Regions from separate parts of the Homo sapiens genome. Here region 2 is linked to region 1. Evidence: fine-mapped expression QTL. A gene starts in region 1. The other region holds a variant in brackets. All regions are shown on one strand. Distances are between the middles of the regions.

Region 1 (12,163 bases):
GCAGGGTCCTTAACATTGGAAAATAAAGAGTGCTCTGATCCTGGAAGCCCCACCCCTTCTCTGCAATTGGTCTCATTGGCCAAGGGTCAAACCAGTGTCTTCAAAGGACCTAGTGTGTCCCTAGCACTAGCTCTCCCATTAGTCCCCAGAGACAATGAGTCTCTTCTCATTGGCTATGGTGGAAGTCCATAATCTGCAAGACAAAGACCGATAACTGAGGAATGTATGAGAATGAGTTGGGCTTTGATCTGAAGCCAAAGTTAATCTCCGGCTCTATTCCCTCTAGGGTGACTCAGGGGGACCGTTGGTGTGCAGAGGTACCCTGCAAGGTCTGGTGTCCTGGGGAACTTTCCCTTGCGGCCAACCCAATGACCCAGGAGTCTACACTCAAGTGTGCAAGTTCACCAAGTGGATAAATGACACCATGAAAAAGCATCGCTAACGCCACACTGAGTTAATTAACTGTGTGCTTCCAACAGAAAATGCACAGGAGTGAGGACGCCGATGACCTATGAAGTCAAATTTGACTTTACCTTTCCTCAAAGATATATTTAAACCAACCTCATGCCCTGTTGATAAACCAATCAAATTGGTAAAGACCTAAAACCAAAACAAATAAAGAAACACAAAACCCTCAGTGCTGGAGAAGAGTCAGTGAGACCAGCACTCTCAAACACTGGAACTGGACGTTCGTACAGTCTTTACGGAAGACACTTGGTCAACGTACACCGAGACCCTTATTCACCACCTTTGACCCAGTAACTCTAATCTTAGGAAGAACCTACTGAAACAAAAAAAATCCAAAATGTAGAACAAGACTTGAATTTACCATGATATTATTTATCACAGAAATGAAGTGAAACCATCAAACATGTTCCAAAAGTACCAGATGGCTTAAATAATAGTCTGGCTTGGCACAACGATGTTTTTTTTCTTTGAGACAGAGTCTCTGTTGCTTGGGCTGCAATGCAGTGATGCAATCTTGGCTCACTGCAACCTCCGCCTCCTGGGTTCAAGTGATTCTCGTGCTTCAGCCTCCCAAGTACCTGGGACTACAGGTGTGCACCACCACACCAGGCTAATTTTTTGTGTATTTTTACTAGAGACAGGGTTTCACCATGTTGGCCAGCATGGTCTTGAACGCCTGACCTCAGATGATCCACCCACCTTGGCCTCCCAAAGTGCTGGGATTACAGGCATGAGCCACCACGGCCAGCCCACAATGATATTACAAACCTATTAAAAATGATACTTAGACAGAATTGTCAGTATTATTCAAGAACATTTAGGCTATAGGATGTTAAATGACAAAAGGAAGGACAAAAATATATATGTATGTGACCCTACCCATAAAAAATGAAATATTCACAGAATCAGATCTGAAAACACATGTCCCAGACTGCATACTGGGGTCGTCATGAGGTGTCTCCTTCCTTCTGTGTACTTTTCCTTGAATGTGCACTTTTATAACATGAAAAATAAAGGTGGGGAAAAAAGTCTGAAGATCTAAGATTGGAGAGAGGTGACCTTTCAGGAAGGGAGACTAGAAAGAAATATGTGCCTGGTTTTGAGCCCTGGTCCTGCCGGCCCTGTTCCAGGGCATATTTCCATTTCCCAGATCTCAGTTTTTCCTGTCTGTAAAATGGGAGAGAGAGGAAAGGATGGAGAGAGGAAGAAGGAAGGGAGGAGGGAGGAGAGAACAGGCCAACTTCATCAGCGTGGGAAGGGGTGTGAAAGTGTTTCTGAGCATCTCACGAGTGACAAGTGAGGAGGGAGGCTGGCGGTTTTCAGAGGGATTGGGATGACAGTAGACAGGACACAGGGGTCCCACGGGGGTCTGCCAGAAGTAAGCAAACAGTGCCGGAGGAAGATGGTGGCACCTGCTCCCCAAGAAGGGAGGGAAAGGAACCTCGGGAAGCGGGTAGGATGAGGGAGGAGTCCTCTGTGACTCAGAGCCTGGCCACAGCCCCAGCCATCTAACATCAAAGATCCTCTGTGTGGTCACACCTCAGACGCTGCTGACCGAGGAGCCACTCCAGCCCAGGACACGCCCTCCTACCTGTTCTTCCTGTTTTTCTCCCAGAATTCCCTCCCCACCAAGATCCTCCAGATCCTTCCCCTCCTTATCTCATCTCCCTCTGAGTCTCTCCTAACCCAGGCACCACAGCCCTGTCATATTGCAGAAATTCTGCAGCCGCTAATTCTGATTCTCCCATATAGGAGGCTAACACAGAAAACGCAGGAGTCCAGGCCCCCAGCCCCTCCTCCCTCAGACCCAGGAGTCCAGACCCCCCAGCCCCTCCTCCCTCAGACCCAGGAATCCAGACTCCCCCCAGCCCCTCCTCCCTCAGACCCAGGAGTCCAGAACCCCAGCCCCTCCTCCCTCAGACCCAGGAATCCAGACTCCCCCCAGCCCCTCCTCCCTCAGACCCAGGAGTCCAGACCAGCCCCAGCCCCTCCTCCCTCAGACCCAGGAGTGCAGGCCTGCCCCCACGAGCCCCTCCTCCCTCAGACCCAGGAATCCAGACTCCCCCCAGCCCCTCCTCCCTCAGACCCAGGAGTTCAGAACCCCCCCCACCAGCCCCTCCTCCCTCAGACCCAGGAATCCAGACTCCCTCCAGCCCCTCCTCCCTCAGACCCAGGAGTTCAGACCCCCCTGCCAGCCCCTCCTCCCTCAGACCCAGGAATCCAGACTCCCCCCCAGCCCCTCCTCCCTCAGACCCAGGAGTCCAGACTCCCCCCCAGCCCCTCCTCCCTCAGACCCAGGAGTCTAGACTACCCCCAGCCCCTCCTCCCTCAGACCCAGGAGTTCAGACCCCCCCCCCCGCCAGCCCCTCCTCCCTCAGACCCAGGAGTCCAGACCGCCCCCAGCCCCTCCTTCCTCAGACCCAGGAGTCCAGACTCCCCCCAGCCCCTCCTCCCTCAGACCCAGGAGTTCAGACCGCTCCCCGCCGCCAGCCCCTCCTCCCTCAGACCCAGGAATCCAGACTCCCCCCAGCCCCTCCTCCCTCAGGCCCAGGAGTCCAGATCCCCCCCAGCCCCTCCTTCCTCAGACCCAGGAGTCCAGACCCCCCGCCCCAACCCCTCCTCCCTCAGACCCAGGAGTCCAGGCTCCCCCCCAGCCCCTCCTTCCTCAGACCCAAGAGTCCAGACCCCCCGCCCCAACCCCTCCTCCCTCAGACCCAGGAGCCCAGGTCCCCAGCCCCTTCTGTTTCTGGGCCTGTCAAGTTTAAGAATGTCAAACATTTTCGACCAGTCATTCCCCTGAAGTTTTAGCAACATTTTCTCTCTCTTCTGCAAGGCACTCCAACATTCAATCTGGAATTTTAAAAAGTAACAAAACATTGCATTTGCACTAAGTCAGCCTGGAGATCCCTGGCCCTGGCCCTCTGCTCTCCTATACGCAAGCTACAGGTAGATTGGTTTGCAATGACTGAGATGGTACTAATGTTGATTTTTTTTAAGTAATTCATTTTTCTTTGGGTAAGCAGTATAGTGTGGTAGTTAAGGGACTAGCTCTGGATCTTGGCTTCTTGGGTTCAAATCCCAGTTCTAGTCCCTACAAGCTATTTTCCTTTAAGCTCATTACTTCCCCTGTCCCTGTTCCTTCATCCTTGAAATGGGAGAAAAAGCACCTACTTTCTAGGGTTATTACAGAGATTCAATAAGTTAATATACAGAAAGTGCTCAAACATTGTGTGGCACGAGGTAAGCCTTCCTTCAATGGTCATTGGTTTTAGTTTAGTTTAGTTTAGTTTAGTTTTTCTTTTTTTTTGAGACAAAGTCTTGCTCTTGTCACCCAGGCTGGAGTGCAATGGCGCGATCTCAGCTCACTGCAACCTCTGCCTCCCAGGTTCAAGTGATTCTCCTGCCTCAGCCTCCTGAGTAGCTGGTATTACAGGTGCCTGCCACCATGCCCGGCTAATTTTTGTATTTTCAGTAGAGACCAAGTTTCACCACGTTGGCCAGGCTGTCCTCAAACTCCTGACCTCAGGCAATCTGCCCGCCTTGACCTCCCAAAGTGCTGAGATTACAGGCATGAGCCACCGCGCCTGGCCCAGGCATTGGTTTTTATTGTTTATGACTTCTGGCACTTTTTTCTGCTTACAGTCTCATGAAGTTTCCTTATAATTTTTTTTTTCTTTTTTTCACATAGGGTCTTGCTCTATCATCCAGGCTAGAGTTTGGTGGCATGATCATAGCTCACTGCAGCCTCAGTCTCCTGGGCTCAAACAATCCTTTTGCCTCAGCCTTTCGAGTAGCTGGGACCATGCCTGGGCTGATTTTTTTTTTTTTTTTTAGTAGAGACGGGGTCTCACTATGTTGTCCAGGCTGGTCTCTAATTCCTGAGCTCAAGTAATCCTCCCACCTCAGCCCTCCAAAGTGCTGGGATTACAGGTGTGAACCACTGCACCGAGACAGAAGAATTTATTTAGTGAAGAGTTTTGCAGAGCAAGACAATCTGGAGCAAACTATCCAGTAAATAAGCATTCAAAGTATGCAGAGATGGCAAACCATGAAGGTCACCAGAGAAGAGGTAGAGTTAGAAATTTCTTTCTCTTCAAAGTCCCTCCACTCCCCACAGCCTAACACCTCCCTTCTTTCCCCACCCAGCTCTCAACAATTCCTCCCAAGTTCACTCACCTCGTACTGTCATAAGATAGACCCAGCCAGGCCACCAAGGGATGGGCCACATCCACGCCATGTTGGAAGCTGAGTTCCCATTCAGGCTCCACCATTTCCTGGATGTTTGATGATGAGCAATGAACTTCCCGTTCTGAGCCTCAGTTTTCTTATCTGTAAAATGGGAGTGGGTGTGATAAAGTCATTTAGTCATTTGGTCAGTCTTGCCTAAGGCTTCTTCTGGGCAAGGTCCTGTGTGGTTGCTTGGGACACAGGGATGAGTCAGTCCCGTACCTGCCCTCAAGGAGCTCACGGTCCAGTGGAAGAGATGACGAATGTCAATCCAGGTGGCCCCCCGTCCAGGTTGGGTTGAGGGAGACACCTGCTGTGGGAACCTACGTGAGAGAATGAGTAATCCAACTACAGCAGGTGGCAGCTGGGTGGTGTTCAGGGAAGGTTTCCTGGAGGAGGTAATGTCCAAGTAAAGACTTGAAGGACAGGTTATTGCCAGGAAAAGGTGGGGAAAACATGCTAAGAAGAGAGAATAGGCCAGGCACGGTGGCTCACGCCTGTAATCCCAGCACTTTGGGAGACCGAGGCAGGCAGATCACCTGAGGTCAGGAGTTCATGACCAGCCTGGCCAACATGGTGAAACCCCATCTCTACTAAAAATATAGGCATGGTGGTGTGTGCCTGTAATCCCAGCTACTCGGGAGGCTGAGGCTGGAGAATTGCTTGAACCCAGCAGGCGAAGAGAGATCGCGCCACATCACTCCAGCCTGGGCGACAGAGCGAGACTCCATCTCAAGAAGAAGAGGGAATAGCATTCAGTGAAGGGCCAGAGGCCAGAGGGCATGGCATGGGTCAGGGAAGCTTGATGTGTTCTAGAAAGCTGGAGCCACACGGAGACGTAGACATAGCTGTGTCATGCAGTGTGAGGGCCACTCACCACTCAGGACTCCTTTTAAAAAAATTTTTGACAGGGTCTGGCTCTGTCACACTGAAGTGCAGTGGCGTGATTATGGCTTACTGCAACCTGGGCCTCCAGGCTCAAGCAACTATCCCACCTCAGCCTTCTGCATAGCTGGGACCACAGATGTGTGCCACCACACCTAGGTAATTTTTTTCTTTTCTTTTTTTTGTTTTTTTTTTTAGAGATAGGGTCTCACTATATTGTCCAGGCTGGTCTCGAACTCCTAGGCTCAAGTGATCTTCCCACCTCTGCCTCCCAAAGTGCTTGGATTACAGGCATGAGCCACCTTGCCCAGCCATGTCAGGCTGGGGTGCAGTGGTATAGTCACAGCTCACTGCAGGCTCGACCTCCCAGGCTCAGCAATTCTCCCGCCTCAGCCTCCGGAGTAGCTGGGACTACAAGTGTGCACCACCACATCTGGCTAATTTTTTTACTTTTTGCAGAGATGGTTTCTCACTATGTTGCCCAGGCTGGTCATGAACTTCCGGACTCAAGCTATCTACCCACCTTGGCCTCTCAAAGTGCTGGGATTACAGACATGAGCCACCATGCCTGGCCTTAAATTTATTTTTTAATTGACAAGTAAAAATTGTATATATTTCTGGTGTATAACATCATGTTTGATATATGTATGTATATGTTGTGGAATGGCTAAACCAAGCTATTTAACATATGCATTATTTTACACCCTTATTTTTTGTGGTAAGGACACTTAAAAAATCTTCTGACTTAAAAAAAAAAGTATGGTGATTGGAAAATGTAAATGTGCATGCGTGCTTGGCATCACATTTCATTGGCCAGGACTTCCCTGGATGCTAAAGGTCCTCAAATGCCAGGCTGGGGGGCTGGGACTTGGTCCCAAGGGAGATGGGGACCCAGGGCACGTCTGTGAGAGGAGGGGCAAGGTCAGCACAAGGCACAGGAAGGTCTCTCTGGGGCAAGGGATACAGAGAACAGAGGGATCCTGGTCCAGGTGGGAGAGGTGCAGCTCTGAGTTGGGGTTGAGGGTGTGGGTACAGAGAGGAAGGGACCCCCCAGAGAGAGGAGGCAGAGGGATAGGGCCTGGTCACTGGGTTGTGCAACATCAGACTTGCTGTCTGTGAAGATAGCACGTCCTGAGAAGAAGGTGCTGAGGTCAGTGGGGACCAAATGTGAGAGGGAGCACCCGGAGAGTATACTGAATACCGAAGTAGTCTTCATCCCTGGAGTGATGGGGGGTGCACAATGCAAGATGACAATTAGATTCAATGCAAGACAAAGAAAAGGGTTGGCTGGGAACAGTGGCTCATGCCTATGGTCCCAGCTCCTGGGAAGACTGAGGCGGGAGGGTCGCTTGAGCCCAGGAGGGTTGAGGCTGCCACGAGCAAGGATCGTGCCACTGCACTCCAGCCTAGGCGACAGAACAAGACCTTGTCTCAAAAGAAAAAAGAACTTTTTTTTTTAAGTTACCTGTAGTGCCCAGCCCAAGCAGGTGCTGAGCCAGACTTCATTCCTATCATTGTCCTTATTACGCAGTGACTTCCCCCTCCTCATTTCTCTCCACTCTGCCACGCACACACCCTCACCCTCCAGCCCATACCAACCACCCCAACCACTGCCTGTGGTTTCCCATGTGCACCCAGGCCAGGCATTTTCACGGCCTTTCCTCCTGACCTACGCCTGGCTCAGCTTTCTAGGCCCAAGTTCAAAGACACCTCCCTAAATCTTCCCAGATCCCTCTGCTACTGCCCAGCACCACCATCTTATCACAGCCCCACGTCGTTCCCAAGTGCTCTCCGATTTCTGCTTAACTCCATGCCTCTCGCTGTGTGTCCGCATCTCATCAATAAGTCCTCAAGTCCTCTTCCATCCTGCTAGCTTCCTCATCGCTCGGGAATCATCCCCGCTACTTCCTGGGGAAACTGACTCCCTTCTGGGCACACACAGTGCTACCCCCGGGGAAATCTAAGAAGAGACCCAGGAGAAGATAAGCACGGAGAGTCAGAGAATCAAGGGGAAAGAAAGGGAGAGAGGCCGGGCACAGTGGCTCACACCTGTAATCCAGCACTTTGGGAGGCCAAGGTGGGTGGATCACCTGAGGTCAGGAGTTTGAGACCAGCCTGGCCAACATGGTGAAACCTCTTCCCTACTAAAAATACAAAAAACATTTAGCCGGGCGTGGTGGTGGGTGCCTGTAATCCCAGCTACTTGGGAAGCTGAGGCAGGAGAACTGCTTGAACTCAGGAGGCGGAGGTTGCAGTGAACTGAGATCACACCACTGCACTCCAGCCTGAGTGACAGAGCAAGACTCCGTCAAAAAAAAAGAAAGAAAGAAAGAAAAGAAGGAAGGAAAGAAAGAAGGAAGGAAGGAAGGGAGGAAGGGAGAGAGGAAGGGAGAGAGGAAGGGAGAGAGAGAAAAAAAGAGGGAGAGAGACACAAATACAGAGACTGAGATGGGAGAGAGAGAGAGATGGAAGCTCCCTCCCCTCCATGGCCAGGGAGACAGATGGAGCAAGAGACCTCAGGGGTGGGCAGACTTGGAGGAGAAGGACCAGGAGGATGTGGAGTGCCGAAATCTCCAGTCAGGGCCAGGTGGGCAGTCAGAGACTGCAAAGGAGGACTGTCAGACAGGGACAAAAGGAAGCCATTGATGTAACCGCCCTCCCGCCTGCCCGCCGGAAGAGAGGTTGAGGCCGGAGCTGCTGGGAGCATGGCACTGGGGTGCTGGGGGCGGACAAAGCCCGATTGTTCCTGGGCCCTTTCCCCATCGCGCCTGGGCCTGCTCCCCAGCCCGGGGCAGGGGCGGGGGCCAGTGTGGTGACACACGCTGTAGCTGTCTCCCCGGCTGGCTGGCTCGCTCTCTCCTGGGGACACAGAGGTCGGCAGGCAGCACACAGAGGGACCTACGGGCAGGTGTGTGAGTCACCCCAACCGCACTGAACCTGGGCAGGCTGCTTCCCAGTGCCGGAGGGCTCTAGAGCCCGGAGTGAGGGCCTGCAGGTCCCTGGGTGGCACAGAGAGTGCTGGGGGTGCAGGGAGGCCTGGGGCACCATCTGCTTGCCCCAGAGGCCGGAATTTGTCTTCAGACACTTTCTTTCTCCAAAACCCGGAGGTCTAAGGACTGAGCCGACTAGAACTTCCTCTGCCTCAGATTCAGGCCCCAGCCCCTCCTCCCTCAGACCCAGGAGTTTAGGTCCTAGCCCCTCCTCCCTCAGACCCAGGAGTCCAAGTTCCCACCTCCTCCCTCAGACTCAGGAGTCCAGGCCCCCAGCCCCTCCTCCCTCAGACCCAGGAGTCCAAGTTCTCACCTCCTCCCTCAGACCCAGGAGTCCAGGCCCCAAGCCCCTCCTCCCTCAGACGCAAGGGTCCAGGCCCCCAGCCCCTCCTCCCTCAGACTCAGGAGTCCAGGCCCCCAAGCCCCTCCTCCCTCAGACCCAGGAGTCCAGGCCCTCACTGCACTCAGGGACCAGTGCTCCCTTCCCTGGAGGCCTGGTCAGGGGTCACCAAGAGCAGAGCGTGGGGGCGGGAGGAATGTGTGTGGGAGGCCTGGGTAAGGAGGAAAAGGGTGTAGCCAGTCTCCTGGCTCAGGGACCTGAGAGACAGGGGTTAAAAGGACGTTCCAGAAGCATCTGGGGACAGAACCAGCCTCTTCCAGGGAGGCCTGGGAGCTGGGGGTGTGTGTCTGGCAGTCCCTGCAGCCCTGGGCTCTGCGGCCCCTGCGTCCTCCGCTTGGCTCTGCCACTGCATCTGAGTGTCTTCTCTCCTCACGGCTCCCCGCATTTCTAACTCTTTCTGCCTCCTCGTCTCAAAGCTGTTCCTTCCCCCGACTCAAGAATCCCCGGAGCCCGGAGGCCTGCAGCAGGTGAGATCACAGACATCACAGAACCTGCCGGGTGGGCGGGGTGGGTGGCCATTGCGCACAGAGCCAGGCTCCGAGGAAAACTCCCATACAGAGGAAGAACGCTAGGGCCCCCTAGGGTAACCCTCTCCTGTCGACAGGAAGGCAAATCAGTGCCCAAGAAAGTAGAAAGATCTAATCAGAATCTCACCATGGGTTACTGGACCAGTGGACGTAGTTCTGAATTCTCTTTGGCACTGTTTTCGTGGGATCCTCTGATGGAAGATGTGGGCTGAGGAAGAATAAATCAGGAGGCTAGATGGGAAGGACAGAGGTCAAGGCAGGAGACCATAGCAGGCCAGGAAGGAAGGAGAGGATGCAGAGGGAGCAGACAGAGGGATGGGGGGAGGGTCGAGGCAGTGACTAATGGACCATGTGGCTTCCCCTCTCAGGAGCGGCCATGAAGAAGCTGATGGTGGTGCTGAGTCTGATTGCTGCAGGTGGGGAAAGGGCATTTGGATGGGGGAGGCTTGCAGACAGGGTTGGGCTTGTTGATGGAGAAGAGGCTGGTATTGGGGATGGGGATATGCACAGGGTTGGGGTGGGGGAGCTTTGAAATGAGGAAGACGTTGGGGATTAGGCTAAGGGTGGGGAATACAGATAGGGAGGGTGGTGGGAGGTGGGTTTGAAGATATGAGGGTTTGGGGTGGGGTTGGCTTTAGGGATGGGGATCTAAACATAGAAGAGGTAGGAGGTAGGTTGGAAAGTTGGAGAGAGCCCGGGAATAGGGGATACAGTTGGGTTTGTAATGGGAATGGGGTAAGTTTGGGAGTGGAAATACAGAGAAGCTTTTTTTTTTTGAGACAGGGTCTCACTCTGTCACCCAGGCTGGAGTGTAGTGGCATGATCCATAGTTCACTGCAGACTTGAACTCTTGGGTCTCAAGTGACCCTCCCACCTCAGCCTCCCAAGTAGCTGGGACTACAGGCGTATGCCACCATACCCTGCTAATTTGTGTGTGTGTGTGTGTGTGTGTGTGTGTGTGTGTGTGTGGAGATGAGGTCTCACTGTGTTACCGAGGCTGGTCTCAAACTCCTGGGCTCAAGCGATCCTCCTGCCTCAGCTGGGATTACAGGCATAAGCCACTGCACCTGACCAATCTTGACTGGAGTTCATGTTGAGGGGGATGCGCTTGGTTTCTCCAGAACTCCTCTCTGACTCAGATCTTCTCTCCCTCAGCCTGGGCAGAGGAGCAGAATAAGTTGGTGCATGGCGGACCCTGCGACAAGACATCTCACCCCTACCAAGCTGCCCTCTACACCTCGGGCCACTTGCTCTGTGGTGGGGTCCTTATCCATCCACTGTGGGTCCTCACAGCTGCCCACTGCAAAAAACCGTGAGTCTACACTGTAAATGAACAGCAGATGCGACTGAACCCTGAGGGTGTCTTATAGATGTCAGGCAGGAGGTGACATAGGCATCCCCCCCATCCCAGCACGAGGCCATCTGATAGCCAGGTGCATTCGGCTGTTGCTTAATTGAGTACTTAATGTGTGCCAGGCCCTGCGGGCATAGCAGTGGAAAAGAAAATAAAAAAAAGAAAACAAAAAAAAACAAGCAAAATTGCTGTTTTCCTGAACTTACTTTCTAATGGGGGAATTGGATCATTTGGGGACCTGCAGGGCGTGATGGGCATTTGGATTTAATTCTGAGCACAGTAGGAAGCCACTGGGCAGTTTTGTTTTTGTTGTTTGTTTGTTTTTTGAGACACAGTCTCGCTCTGTCACCCAGGCTGGAGTGTAGTGGCATGATCTCAGCTCACTGCAACCTCTGCCTCCCAGGTTCCAGCGATTCTCCTGCCTCAGCACCCCAAGTAGCTGAGATTACAGGTGTGCACCACCTTGCCTGGCTAATTTTTGTATGTTTGGTAGAGACGGGGTTTCACCATGTTGGCCAGGCTGGTCTCGAACTCCTGACCTCAGGTGATCCGCCCGCCTCGCCCTCCCAAAGAGCTGGGATTACAGGCATGAGCCACCACCACACCCAGCCTGATTTACATTTTTACAAGCACCCTGGCTACCACGTGGAACGTGGTCTGGGCAAGAGAGAGGGAGGGAGGCCCACGTGGGGGCTGTTGCTTTCATCCGGCGACATAGGAGGGTGGCTTGAACCCAGGCGGTCGCAGTGGGGATGGAGGGATGTTGAATATCTTGGGATGTGGAATTCTGAGACTGAGCCAGCAGAATCTGGCAACGAGGAACAGGAGGGAGAGGAAGAAGCACGGCTGGCTTCCGTGTATTTGTCCTGAACAACTGGGTGTTTTGCCACGTCTTTCTCTGAGTTGTGGGAGAGGGAAAGAGAAACAGGCCGGGTGTAGGCAGGGGAGCATCTGACATTTTGCTTTAGCCACGATGAGTTGGAGATGCCGGGGAGATGTCCCAGCAGGGAGGCCAGGGAGGACTCTGGAGCTCAGAGGAGAGGTCAGGGCTGGAGGTTAAAATGAAGGCATCGTCAGCAAACAGGTGTATTTAAAGCCATGGGACTAGATGAGATCATCCAAAAAGCTGGCATAGTTGGAGGAGCTGGAGGGCCCAGGACAAAAACCCTGGGCGCTGATCCTCACTAGTCAGATTCACGACAGCTGCCACTTGTTTGATGCTAACTACCAATCAGGTGCTGAGTGAAACCATGTACACACCTTTCCTGGAATGCCCACCACAAGGGACTCTTGGCACCATTTTGCAAATGAG
Region 2 (12,184 bases), 20 kb before region 1:
GTGCTGTAAGGAAATATTGTGGAGCGTAAAAGGATAGGGAGTAATGGAGGGATGGTATTTTTTAATTCGAGTGGTCAGGGAAGGCTTCCAGGAGGAGGTGACACTTGGAAGGAGCAGGATTTAGCACAGATTGAGGACCCGGTTGTCTGAGGGCAGGAAGACTGGAAAGAGAGGGTCAGAGGTATCATAAAGGGGCACCTCCAAGTAACCCCCAGCCCCTTGATTTGAAAATGGCTCAGGGTAAGAAAAAACACGTGAGATCCAAGGGCCCCTCTCTAGATGGAGAAAGCCCAATAGCAACAAGTACAGCTTCGTTTAATGTGGTGAGAAGTGATGTCCCCTGTGCACAGTGTCAGAAAATTCCCCCATGCAGCTGGAAAACTCCCCCATTACATCCTGGAAAGAAAGGGGGTTAGATCCAGACAGGGATGGAGGCAAAGGGCTGCTCTCTCAGGGAACCTTACAACCTCTTCCCCCTCAGAGAATTTTCCTGACACTCTCAACTGTGCAGAAGTAAAAATCTTTCCCCAGAAGAAGTGTGAGGATGCTTACCCGGGGCAGATCACAGATGGCATGGTCTGTGCAGGCAGCAGCAAAGGGGCTGACACGTGCCAGGTGAGCAATTTCTGAAATCCTTCTCCTCACACATCCCTCATTGCCCTCTCGAGGTTCAAGGCTTGGATGGGGGTGGGGGTGGTAAGGGAGTGACCCCAAAGACTTGGCACCCGGAGTGTTCACCCCTATCTCTACGGATTGGGAGCCAGGTTCAGAGAAGCCAAACTCTCTCTCTGAAAGTCACACTGCATAGGGATTAGGAGCATTGAATTGCTGCTGCTGTTTTCTTTCGAACGCTTAACTACAGGATGGGATGCAGAGTTGGGGGCTATAGAGGGTGGGGTAGATGTCCAGCAAGGAGAGAGTCTGAGGCTAGAGTTTAGACGAGTTGCCTGCTCTCTGGTTCCCAGCATTACATCGTGGAATTTGTGCCGACTTTACCACCGGCCCGGTGGTCAGCCACTTTTCTTTGAGACCGGGCTAGAATCCCAAGGCTGGTTCCCTTCTCCTGTGATTGGTTCCTTGGGAGACAATGGTGTCTTCCCAGTTGGCTGGAGTAAATGGTGCCATTGACTTCAGTGCTTCCTCAATGAGCTCCAATCCCTTTCTCTTGGGATTTGTCATAGATATAACTCTCTCTTCTAACTGCAACTTCGTTGTTCCTAGCACTTTCCCCTGGCTTTGTCCACTTCCTGGAAGCCCCACCACCTTTGCCAATGACTGGTCCCTAAATACAATGCTTTCTTCCCCATTGGCCAAAAATGGAGTCGTTTCCATCAGCGATACTGCCATGAAAGCCAGTCTCTGGATTGTTCTGTAGAGATAGTGGTCTCTTCCACAAATATTTCAGCCATGGTCTCTTGGGGATATGGTGTGTGTGTGTGTGTGTGTGTGTGTGTGTGTGTGTGTGTGTGTGTCCATAAGAATCTTGATCCTTTCTCCTATGTTTGGCAACTGCAATCAATGATGCCTTCACTATTGGCCAGGAACAGAGGAAACTTCAGCTCAGTCCTCTCCAAGTAATCCCTACTGTCTTCTCCCTGGATTGGACCCTCGAGAACTCTTTTTTTTTTTTTTTTGAGACAGGGTCTCGCTCTGTCCCCCAAGCTGGAATGCAGTGGCACAATCTTGGCTCACTGCAGCCTCTGCCTCCCAGTTCAAGCAATTCTCCCACCTCAGCCTCCCGAGTAGCTGTGATTACAGGTGTGCACCACCACACCCAGCTAGTTTTTGTATTTTTAGTAGAGACAGGGATTCACCATGTTGGCCAGGCTGGTCTGGAACGCCTGACTTCAAGTGATCTACCGCCTCGGCCTCCCAAAGTGCCGGGATTGCAGGTGTGAGCCACCAAGCCTGTCTGGGATTTCATTCTTTCCCCTCTTCTGTCAGTGTTTTGACCACTACCCTTAGACACCATGTCTGTCTGTACATGGAAGCCCCAAGCCCTGTCCTGACTGGTCTCAGGGGACAATGCTTTTACCCCCATTGGCTACAGGGGACCAATCATGCCAAAGAACTGGTAAAACGCTGGGACAGCAGGAAAAGGGACGTTGTGGACATCTCAGATGCAAGGCTGTTCTCATTCTCCCTGTCTAGGGCGATTCTGGAGGCCCCCTGGTGTGTGATGGTGCACTCCAGGGCATCACATCCTGGGGCTCAGACCCCTGTGGGAGGTCCGACAAACCTGGCGTCTATACCAACATCTGCCGCTACCTGGACTGGATCAAGAAGATCATAGGCAGCAAGGGCTGATTCTAGGATAAGCACTAGATCTCCCTTAATAAACTCACAACTCTCTGGTTCCTTGCCTGTCTCTGTTTTGGCCCTGTGGGGAGGGCTGGATGGGGATCCGGGATTGTTCCTGCTGGCAGACTAGGTGGGGATGTGCAGAAACCAAGTTCTCATGGTCACTTTGGCCATCACCACTGCCTAAAGTGATCCCTCGTTTTCTGGAAGAACTTGGGTAAGAGCTTTATTTCAGGGGAGAAAATACATACAAAGGTCTTCAAACATTCAGTGGGCTGGTATGTGAAAGACAGTTTTGAAAGAGTTTGTGTTTAGTTTTCCTGAGCAAAGCATTTACAAGCTTTGGAGATAAAATTTTCCCCCTTTAAAAAATAATTGGCCAGGTGCGGTGGCTCAAGCCTGTAATTTCAGCACTTTGGGAGGCCGAAGCGGATGGATCACCTGCGGTTAGGAGTTCGAGACCAGCCTGGCCAACATGGCAAAACCCCGTCTCTACTAAAAATACAAAAATTAGCAGGGTGTGGTGGTGGGCATCTGTAAACTCAGCTACTCAGGAGGCTGAGGCAGAAGAATCGCTTGAACCCAGGAGGCGGAGGTTGCAGTGAGCCAGGGATCATGCCATTGTACTCCAGCCTGGGTGACAAGAGCAAGACTCGGTCTCAAAATAAATAAACAAATAAATTAATAATAATAATTGTGCCAGGTATGGTGGCTCATGCTTGTAATTCCAGCACTTTCACAGGCTGAGGTGGGAGGATCACTTGAGCCCAGGAGTTCAAGACCAGCCTGGGCAACAATGTAAGACCTCATCTCTATTTTTATTTAAAAAAAAAGAAAAAAAGAAGAAAAGGGAAAACATTGGGAGATATGCATAGAAAAGAGTGCAGAAAATATATGAACAGCTTAAATATTCACAAATGAACAACCATGAAACCACCACTCGGGTCAAAAATCTTGAGAGCTCCCAAAAATCCAGATAGAACTCTTTCTCACAGCCTAGAGCCATCTGGTGGTGTCTGCTGTGGTAGAAGGAAATGAGTGGTGTGTCCAAATTGAAGTGTGACGCAAAGGGCATTTGGGAAAGTTTTCATTAAAGCAAAGGCTTAACATAACTTGTTTTAGGGAAAGATGAGTGTGGAGGGGGTAGTTATTACAAGGATATAGTCACTCTTCTAGTGGTGCAGGCCAGGTGGGCCCAAAACTGGAGCTTAGCCAGGGAGGGTTCCTGGCTTTGTCCAGGAAATAATTCAAGGGCAACCCAGTGGTGTTAGTGACTTTTCTTGAAACAGTACTGCACAGTAGCAGAGGTACTGCTCTTTGCAGAGCAGGGCTACCCCATAGGCATTGAGCACAAAGTAGCAGCTCAGGGCCAGTTCTGTAGTCATATTTAGTCCCATTTTCAATTACATGCAAATTAAGGGGTGGGTTATTCAGAAATTTCTAGAAAAGGGCTGATAAATTTTGGGTGTTGTCATGGCAGTGGCAAACTGTCATGGTGCTGGTGTGCACGTCTTATGGAGATGTGCTTTTGGTGCCTTTTCCCTGTTCCAGCTGTCTTCAATCTAGTCCAGAGTTAAACCCCGCCTCCTCCTTCACTAGGATCTTTAGAAAATAGTCTCATGAAAGAGAATCTGATTCATCTAGCTCACCTTTTCTTCTTCAGCCACATCATTGGTCACTGAATGGCCAATCATTTGATGGCATCCCAGTCAGGTGACCAAATCTTAGCCAATCAGTGGCTACTTGGAGTCATGTGATATGAAACATGGCCACTTAGTGCTATGGGAAGGCAATTCTCCACAAGGGGCGTGGGTGTGTGAGATACCTTGCATTCATCAATCTCCCTGATGCTTTATGACAGTTCCCCCATACCAGAAATCCTGAGGAAGTCTTTCAAGCATGGCATTAAACTTCTGATGCCAGGGATGCATTTCTGGGGGGGACATCTCAACTCAAAGAATTGTTTTATAATTTTTATTATGGAAAATTTCAAACACATGCAAAATAGAATAACATAATGTGTCTTCATATACCACCATCCAACTTCGATAATGAATGCAAGGTCCGGTGCAGTGGCTCACGCCTGTAACCCCAGCACTTTGAAAGGCCGAGGCACGAGGATTGCTTGAGCCCAGGCATTCAAGACCAGTCTGGGCAACATAGGGAGACTGGTCTCTACAAAAGATTAAAAAATTAGCTGGGCATGGTGGCATGCGTCTGTGGTCCCAGCTACTCAGGAGGCTGAGGTGGGAGGATCACTTGAGCCTGAGAGGTTGAGACTGCAATGAGCTATGATTGTACCACTGCACTCCAGCCTGGGTAACAGAGTGAGACCCTATCTCAAAAAAAAAGTTAATGCAAAACCAATTATTGTTTCACCTATACTCCCACCACACACTTCCCTAATGCCAGAATATTTTGAAGCAATCTCAGTCACCACAACATCTCATTCTTAAATATTTTATTATGCATTTTTAAAACAGGGGATGGCAAATTACAGCTGTTGGACCAAATCTCCTGAGCTAAATTTTTTTTTTTTTTTTTTTTTTTTGAGATGGAGTTTCGCTCTTGTTGCCCAGGCTGGAGTGCAATGGCGTGATCTCGGCTCACCGCAACCTCCGCCTCCCTGGCTCAAGCAATTCTCCTGCTTCAGTCTCCTGAGTAGCTGGGATTACAAGCATGCACCATCACGCCCGGCTAAAATTTTTTGTATTTTCAGTAGAGACAAGGTTTCTCTATGTTGGTCAGGCTGGTCTTGAACTCCCGACCTCAAGTGATCTGCCTGCCTCCACCTCCAAAAGTGCTGGGATTACAGGCGTGAGCTTGATAAGGAATAGCAACAAAAAATTTGTACTAAATTATCATTACTACATTTTGAATTTCATCAATTAAAAATTGTGAAATTTTATTTTCTTTCCTGCTATTAAATATCTACATAATATCTTCCATTTTTCTCTCTTGGTCCACATAAGCTAAAATATTTACTCTCTGGCCCTTTATTTTAAAAATTTGCCAATCCTTGTTCCAAAAGAGACTCGTTTTAAACATAACCAACTTACATTATCACACCTTACACAGTTGATACTTTCTTAGTATCATCCAATGCCAAGGAGATTTTTTTCCTTTTTGAGACAAGGTCTTACTCTGTCACCCAGGTTACAGTACAGTGAGCATTGCACAAACAATGCTTAAGGCAGTTTCTACCTCCTGGGTTTCAGCCATCCTCCCACCTCAGCCTCCTGAGTAGCTGGGACCACAGGCATGTGCCACCACGCCCAGCCATTTTTTTTTTTTTTTCAGTAGAGCTAGGACTCTACCATGTTGCCTAGGCTGGTCCAGGAGATACTTTAATGTCTCCAGTGGAACATAAGCCTGAAAAGACTTGGGGATTGATTTACTCAATCTTAGGTACTAAGGAGGGGCATGGAGGGAACATAGCAGCTACTAACAGAAACAAAAATCTCCTTTCTCCTGGCATCTTGATATTAATCCCAGGGAGGAACTCTAATTGGTCCAGTTTGAACTGGGCCCACCCCTTGAATCTATCATTGTTGCCAGAGAGAAAACACTGATCTTGTTGACTTGGCCTGGGTCATTTCTCCGCCTCAGTG[G/A]GTGGGTGGAGTTGGAGAACTACGATTGACAGTTTCACCAGAACTATAAGAAATAAGGCAGCATCTCCCCCAAAAGAAATGGGGTTCTGCCGGAAGGTGGAGGTTGCAGTGAGCTGAGGTCGCACCACTGAACTCCAGCCTGGGTGACAGAGTGAGACTCTGTCTCAAAAAAAAAAAAAAAAAAAAAAAAAAAAAAAAAAGAAAGAAAGAAAGAAATAAGGAGGAAGAGAATCCAGGAAGTATGAAACAATGGGCCATCAGAACCCATGGGCTGAGTCAGGAGGTACGAGGGTCACAGTGTTCAGAATCCCTCAGGGAAAGGCATAGCTGGCAAGATTATCAGATGCCAGTTCTCAGGTGTGATCATAAGGTGGAAGATGAGTCATTTAACAAAGGTTCAGGACATAGGTCTGAGGACGATGGAGGTATGGGGCTGGGTGTCTGGATGACACTTAGCAACAGGTGCCAGGACTAAATGCAAAGGGCACAGGGGGCCTGGATATGGGCCTCTCTCTGACATGGGGGTATGCATCATTAATAGGCTGAGGGCGATCCAAGTCTGTTTTGAACCAAATGAGACTCAGAGGGTACATGTGGATGTAACAAGGAAATTTCCTTCTCAGAGTATGGATTTGTGCAGTAGTGATACCATAGGCCTTTGAATCCCAATGTTCAAATTCTGGCTTTTTTTTTTTTTTTTTTCCTGAGATGGAGTCTTGCCCTGTCACCCAGGCTGGAGTGCAGTGGTGCAACCTCGGCTCACTGCAACCTCTGCTTACTGGCTTAAGTGATTCTCCTGTCTCAGCCTCCTGAGTAGCTGGGAGTATAGGCACATGCCACCACATCCGACTAATTTTTTGTATTTTTAGTAGAGATGGGGTTTCACCATGTTTGCCAGGCTGGTCTCGAACTCCTGACCTCAAGTGATCCATCCACTTCGGCCTCCCAAAGTGTTGGGATTACAGGCTTTAGCCACCACGCCTGGCTGAATTCTGACACTTCTGACTCCTCAGCTCTGTGACTTTGCTCAAGTGATCTAGCCTTTTTTAAACCTCCATTTTCTCATCTATAAAATGGGGATGATGGGGCAGGCGGCAAAAAATAAAGGTAAAATGGGGATGACAATCCTCACCTGGACCAATGTGAGGAATACAGACACACCACACTAAATGTAGGGGGGAAAATGGGAGCTGCTTCTTCATTCCGTGGGTGATGGGCTGAGGGAACTCATGTTAATTCACTGGCTGTTATGTGCCCATCAATTTTCCATTCATAATTTTATTTAATCCTCTCATTTGCCTCGGTAAATAGGTTTTGCTCTCCTCCACTTTGGGGAGGGGCAAAGTCTGACTCAGAAAAATGAAGTCACTTACCCGAAGTCACAGGGTGGGCAACCAGGATTCAAAGCTGGGTTGAAAGTCCAAGTTCTTTCTAGTTCTTTCTGTCACACTGCATGGTGGAACAGCTCAGGGATCAAGGCAGGACTGAATCTAAGGCCTGTGGACCTGTGGATGCCAGAAGTTTGCAGACTAGTATTTATTTAAGTACCTCCTGTGTTCTCCGGTCTGGGCGGGGTGCTGGAAAAAAAAAAAGAACCCCACACACATTTCCTCTGCTTGTGATGACCAGTGTTTGGCAACAAAATCAGGTTAAATAATTAGGAATATAATTTACAGAATGATAGATGATGAAAAGCAGAGGATAGACGTTTTGGTGACTTAGGAGTGAATAACAGGGCTCTAGAGTAGCCTGGCTCCTTCCTCTTTCTAACAGATACTAAGGAGGCAGAGGACTGAGGGAGGAGAGAATCTAAGGATGAAGATGCAGGGAGTAGATAATACACTGGAAGTCTTGCTACCATTTCTGTCTTTGAGAAGCCAGGAAGGAAAGATACAGATTGCTGAATCATGGAGCTGTGAGGTCAACTGGGCTGGAGTCTGCTTCTCCTTGATTTGGGAGCCCAGGTCAGGAATGTTGACACCCTTCACGACCAGATTGCTGCTGTGGAATGGGCAGGGCTAGATGTCCAAGTTCGGGGATCTGATTTTGGATTCGATGACAGTAAATGTCTCAGAAGATTTTGGGACTCGGCTTGAGTTGAGTTAGTATAGCATCAATGTTAGCAAGATATTCGTTGGCAGACTTTATTTTAGAGTTTTTGTAAAATGAAGAGTCAAAGTTGTGTGGTGAGCTGGAGAAATAAAAATGGAACTGGGAAAAGAATTGGGGATGGAAATGAGAATGGGATTTTAGGTAGCAATTGGGTTGAGGATGAGAATAGGGGTGGGATGGGGTGAGAGTGTTAGAATTGGTGTTGGATGTGAGGGAATGGGTTCATGGGGGAGGATATGAATGTGGGCTTCCTAGAATATGATGGGAATGGAGACTAATGTCTGAATTATCCCGTGGCAGGCTTGATACTCAGGCTATGGTGACATTCACTGCTCAGGTCAAGGTTGAGTTTGGCTTATGGCTAATGGTTCAGGGTTAAGGTCAAGGGTCAGGAGGGTTAAGTTTGATTGAGGTCTGGATCCTAGCCTGAGTTGATATTTGGAGTCAAGAACTCAGTCAAGATTTAGGTTATTGGTTGAGATACAAATTGGGGTTCATCAAGGATAAAGCAGAATTTGAGGTTCAGGATTGGGTACAGATTAAGGTTTGGGGTTAAGACTGGGGCTTACTAAAGAGTCAAAAAAACAATAGATGTTGGCATGGATGTGATGAAAAGGGAACACTTATACACTGCTGGTGGGAATGTAAAGTAGTACAACCTCTGTGGAAAACAGTATGGTGATTTCTCAAAGAACTAAAAGTAGATCTACAATTCAATCCAGCAATCCCACTACTGGGTATCTACCCAAAGGAAAAGAAGTCACTATATCAAAAAGACACATACACACGTATGTTTATCGCAGTACAATTCACAATTGCAAAGATATGGAACCAAAGTAAGTGCCCATCAACTGATGAGTGGATAAAGAAAATGTGATGTGTATGCACCACGGAATACTACTCAACCATAGAAAGAATCAAATAATGTCTTTTGAAGCAACTTGGATGGAGTTGGAAGCCATTATTCTAAGTGAAGTAACTCAGGAATGGAAAACCAAATGCCTTACGTTCTCATGTGTAAGTGGGAGCTAAGCAGTGGGTACCAAGTGGTATAATGGACACTGGAGACTCAGAAGGGGGAGGGTATGAAGAGGATAAGGGATAAAACACTATAAATATTGGGTACAATATACACTACTTGGGTGATGGGTGCACTAAAATCTCAGACTTCACTGCTATACGATACATCCATGTAACCAAAAGCCACTTGTACCCCGAAAGCTATTGAAACAAACAAAAAGGCTGGGGCTTATGTCAAAATACGTGTTGGGAGTTGTGTCAAAGTAAAGGTTGGATTTAGGGTTCTGCTTGAAGTCAGGGTCTGAGGTCTTTTCTTGTCATATCAGAACCATTTGACCACATCTACCATGTCTTCTCAATGAATGGCATCACTGTCCATCGAGCAACAGACTTTGAAATCTTAACATCTTCCACTACCTCAACACAACCTTCATTCAATCCATCACCAAGGCTTGTTGATTCTCTCTCCTAAGTGCATTTTGAACCCATGTACTTAACATCGTCTCCACCTTTCAACCACCTGTATCCAAGTCACCATCTTCCCTCATCTAGACAACAACAATGACTTCCCCCATGGTTGCCCAGTATCTTCACATCCCACCCAAATCCAGCCTTCATACAGTAGCTAGGTTGATGTTTTGAAAATACAAATCTTGTTATGTTATTTCTCTGACTAAGGTTCAAATAGTTCTTCATTATCCACAGGATAAAGCAAGACTCACAATGACATACAGAGCTCGTCATTATCTGGTCCCAGTTAACCTCTGGCCTCCGAGCTCCAGCAATAATGCCTTGGGCCTTTGCACATGCTCTTTTCTCTACACAACACACTCCCCATTCTCCTCCCATTTTCTTCTAGTTACCAGAAGAAATTTTCTTCTAGTTACCAGAAGAAATTTTCTTCTAGTTTACTATTTCTAGTTACTAGAAGATTTCTTCTAGTCTACTTCTAGTTCCTAGAAGATTTCTTCTAGTTTAATATTCTTTCAAATCTCAGCTCATAGTCAATTCCTGGGTCTAACCCCTCTGGAAGTGCCTTCATAATACCCTGCACCTGTCTTTCAGAGCATGCCTTGTAGTTGTAATTTTACACTTGTTTATGAATTGACTGTATTTCTTTTACATGACACTATCAGCTCCTTGAGGGAAGAGACACTATCTAGGTTTGCACACCATTGTATCCTCATTGGTAGATAGCTACCACCCAATCCATATTTGTTAAATATATAAAGGATTGGTGTTAAACTATTGCATAAACAATCAACAACTTTTCCCTAAAAAATAAGAAATCCACTGTATAGAAGAAAAACTAAGAAAAAATTAAATTTAGATGAGAGGTAGTCAGCTATAGGATCCAAATTACTAATTTGTTTTTTTAAAAAAGACTATTCTAAAAATTAAATTGGTCATCTTCACATTAACAATGGCCAAAATGGGATATGGGCTGAAATGGGATATGGGGATGAGGGTTGGGAAGAGAGCTAAGACTGGAGGCATGGTTGAGTTTGTTGATTTATGTGGCTTCAAGATATGGAATCAAGTTAGAATCGGATTTGGATTTGTGGCTTGGGATCAGATTTGGGATCTGAGTCAATATTCTGATTGAACATTGAGGTCTTATAAAGATGATTTTGGCTACAAGGACCAAGCAACTCTAACCCAGAAGGGGAATCTGAAAAATCATGACATGAAGAGGCTCCATCGTTGGTTAATTCACCAGCTCAGTGACTTCATCAAAGACCCAGCTGATCCTCACCTCTCTGGTGGGCTACCTGCAGTGTTTTGACTTAGTCCTCTGGTCACTTCCCTCTGTGGTCCCTGGGGTGCTGCCACAGTTCCAGAATTTGCATCCAGAAAAGACACCATCTAGCAGAAGAAAAAAGTCCCCTTTCAGTGCCTCTTTTTGAAAATGAGAAAGTCTTTCCTAGAAGTGCCTCAGTGGTCTTCCCCTCCTCCTCATTGGCCAGAAGAACAGCACATGTCCATTTTCCAACTAATTAAGCAAACGAAATATGGCTTCAATGCTTGGTTCATTGAGGCTTATAGTCCTGATGAGGATAAAGTATTATCCAAACAAAATGGAGCCTCTGATAGAAAGGCAGAAGGAGTGAATGCCTGGGGACACAACAATAATGTCTACTATTATGGGTCAAATGTAGAATCGAGTTGGGGTGCCAGGCGTGGTGGCTCACACATGTAATCCCAGCACTTTGGGAGGCTGAGGAAGGCAGATCACCTGAGGTCGGGAGTTAGGGACCAGCCTGACCTACATGGAGAAACCCCATCTCTACTAAAAAAAAAAAAAAAAAAAATTAGCCAAGTGTGATGGTACATGCCTGTAATCCCAGCTACTCGGGAGGCTGAGTCAGGAGAATTGCTTGAACCTGGAAGGCGGAGATTGCAGTGAGCTGAGATCGCACCACTGCACTCCAGCCTGGGCAATAAGATCAAAACTCCATCTCAAAAACAAAAACAAAACAAAACAAAGCAAAAAAAAGAATTGAGTTGGGGTCAGGATTGAGATAAGTTTTAGGTCCAGGGTGGAGAAATAAATCCCATTTTGGGGATATAATTTAGAGGTTGAGGTCAATTCCAACTTTAGAAGTGTGTCCAACAATGGTTCCTGTCTTACTCAAAATAAAAGCCAAAGACCTTTCAGACCGCATGTCATCAGAGTCCTGTTATATTTCTGGCCTCATCACCTGCCCTCATCTCCTTTGGTCACTCTGTATTGGTCGCAGTGATTTGTCTGCTGAGGCACTTCAGATATGCTCCTTGGCTAACACACCTGCCTGCTCGCTTTGCCTGGAACTCACTACCTTCAAGCAGCCACCTGGATCCCTCCACCATCTCCTTCAAGACTTTGCTCAAATATCACCTTCACGTGGGGTCTTTGCAGCCAACCTTCCTGATATTATAACCTCAGGGATCCTCGAGGGTAGAGGGAATCAGTAACTCCCCAACCCTCTTCCTTGCTTGGATTTTCCCTTATAGCGCTTACAACCACCTAACAAACTCTACATTTTATTTGCTTATTTTTGTGCTGACCTGACAGTACAAAACAAAAACCTCTATGAAGACAGAAATTTTTCTCTGTTTTATCACTGCTGTGTCTCCAAGAGCCTGAATAGTTTCTGGCA

What was found.
Region 2: its variant is fine-mapped to the expression of KLK6 in tibial nerve (GTEx, PIP above 0.99).

The regions. Positions count from the first base shown.
Region 1 is chr19:50,965,815-50,977,977 of GRCh38, reverse strand. KLK6 (kallikrein related peptidase 6) reads left to right here and starts at 8,387. Exons shown (of 7, transcript NM_002774.4): 1 at 8,387-8,488; 2 at 9,387-9,437; 3 at 9,866-9,913; 4 at 10,653-10,809. The coding sequence starts at 9,874. It overlaps LOC105372442 (a long non-coding RNA gene), which reads right to left. Exons shown (of 7, transcript XR_007067308.1): 3 at 10,490-10,653; 4 at 9,625-9,705; 5 at 4,918-5,018; 6 at 4,645-4,797; 7 at 3,252-3,318. KLK7 (kallikrein related peptidase 7) reads left to right here. Exons shown (of 6, transcript NM_005046.4): 6 at 287-1,510. The coding sequence ends at 442.
Region 2 is chr19:50,986,182-50,998,365 of GRCh38, reverse strand. KLK8 (kallikrein related peptidase 8) reads left to right here. Exons shown (of 6, transcript NM_007196.4): 5 at 482-615; 6 at 2,152-2,358. The coding sequence ends at 2,307. Among named protein-coding and RNA genes, the nearest start is that of KLK7, 8.4 kb to the right of the region's middle. RefSeq lists an enhancer at 3,859-4,153 and a silencer at 7,707-7,907. The variant G/A (reference allele first, on the strand shown) is at 5,913.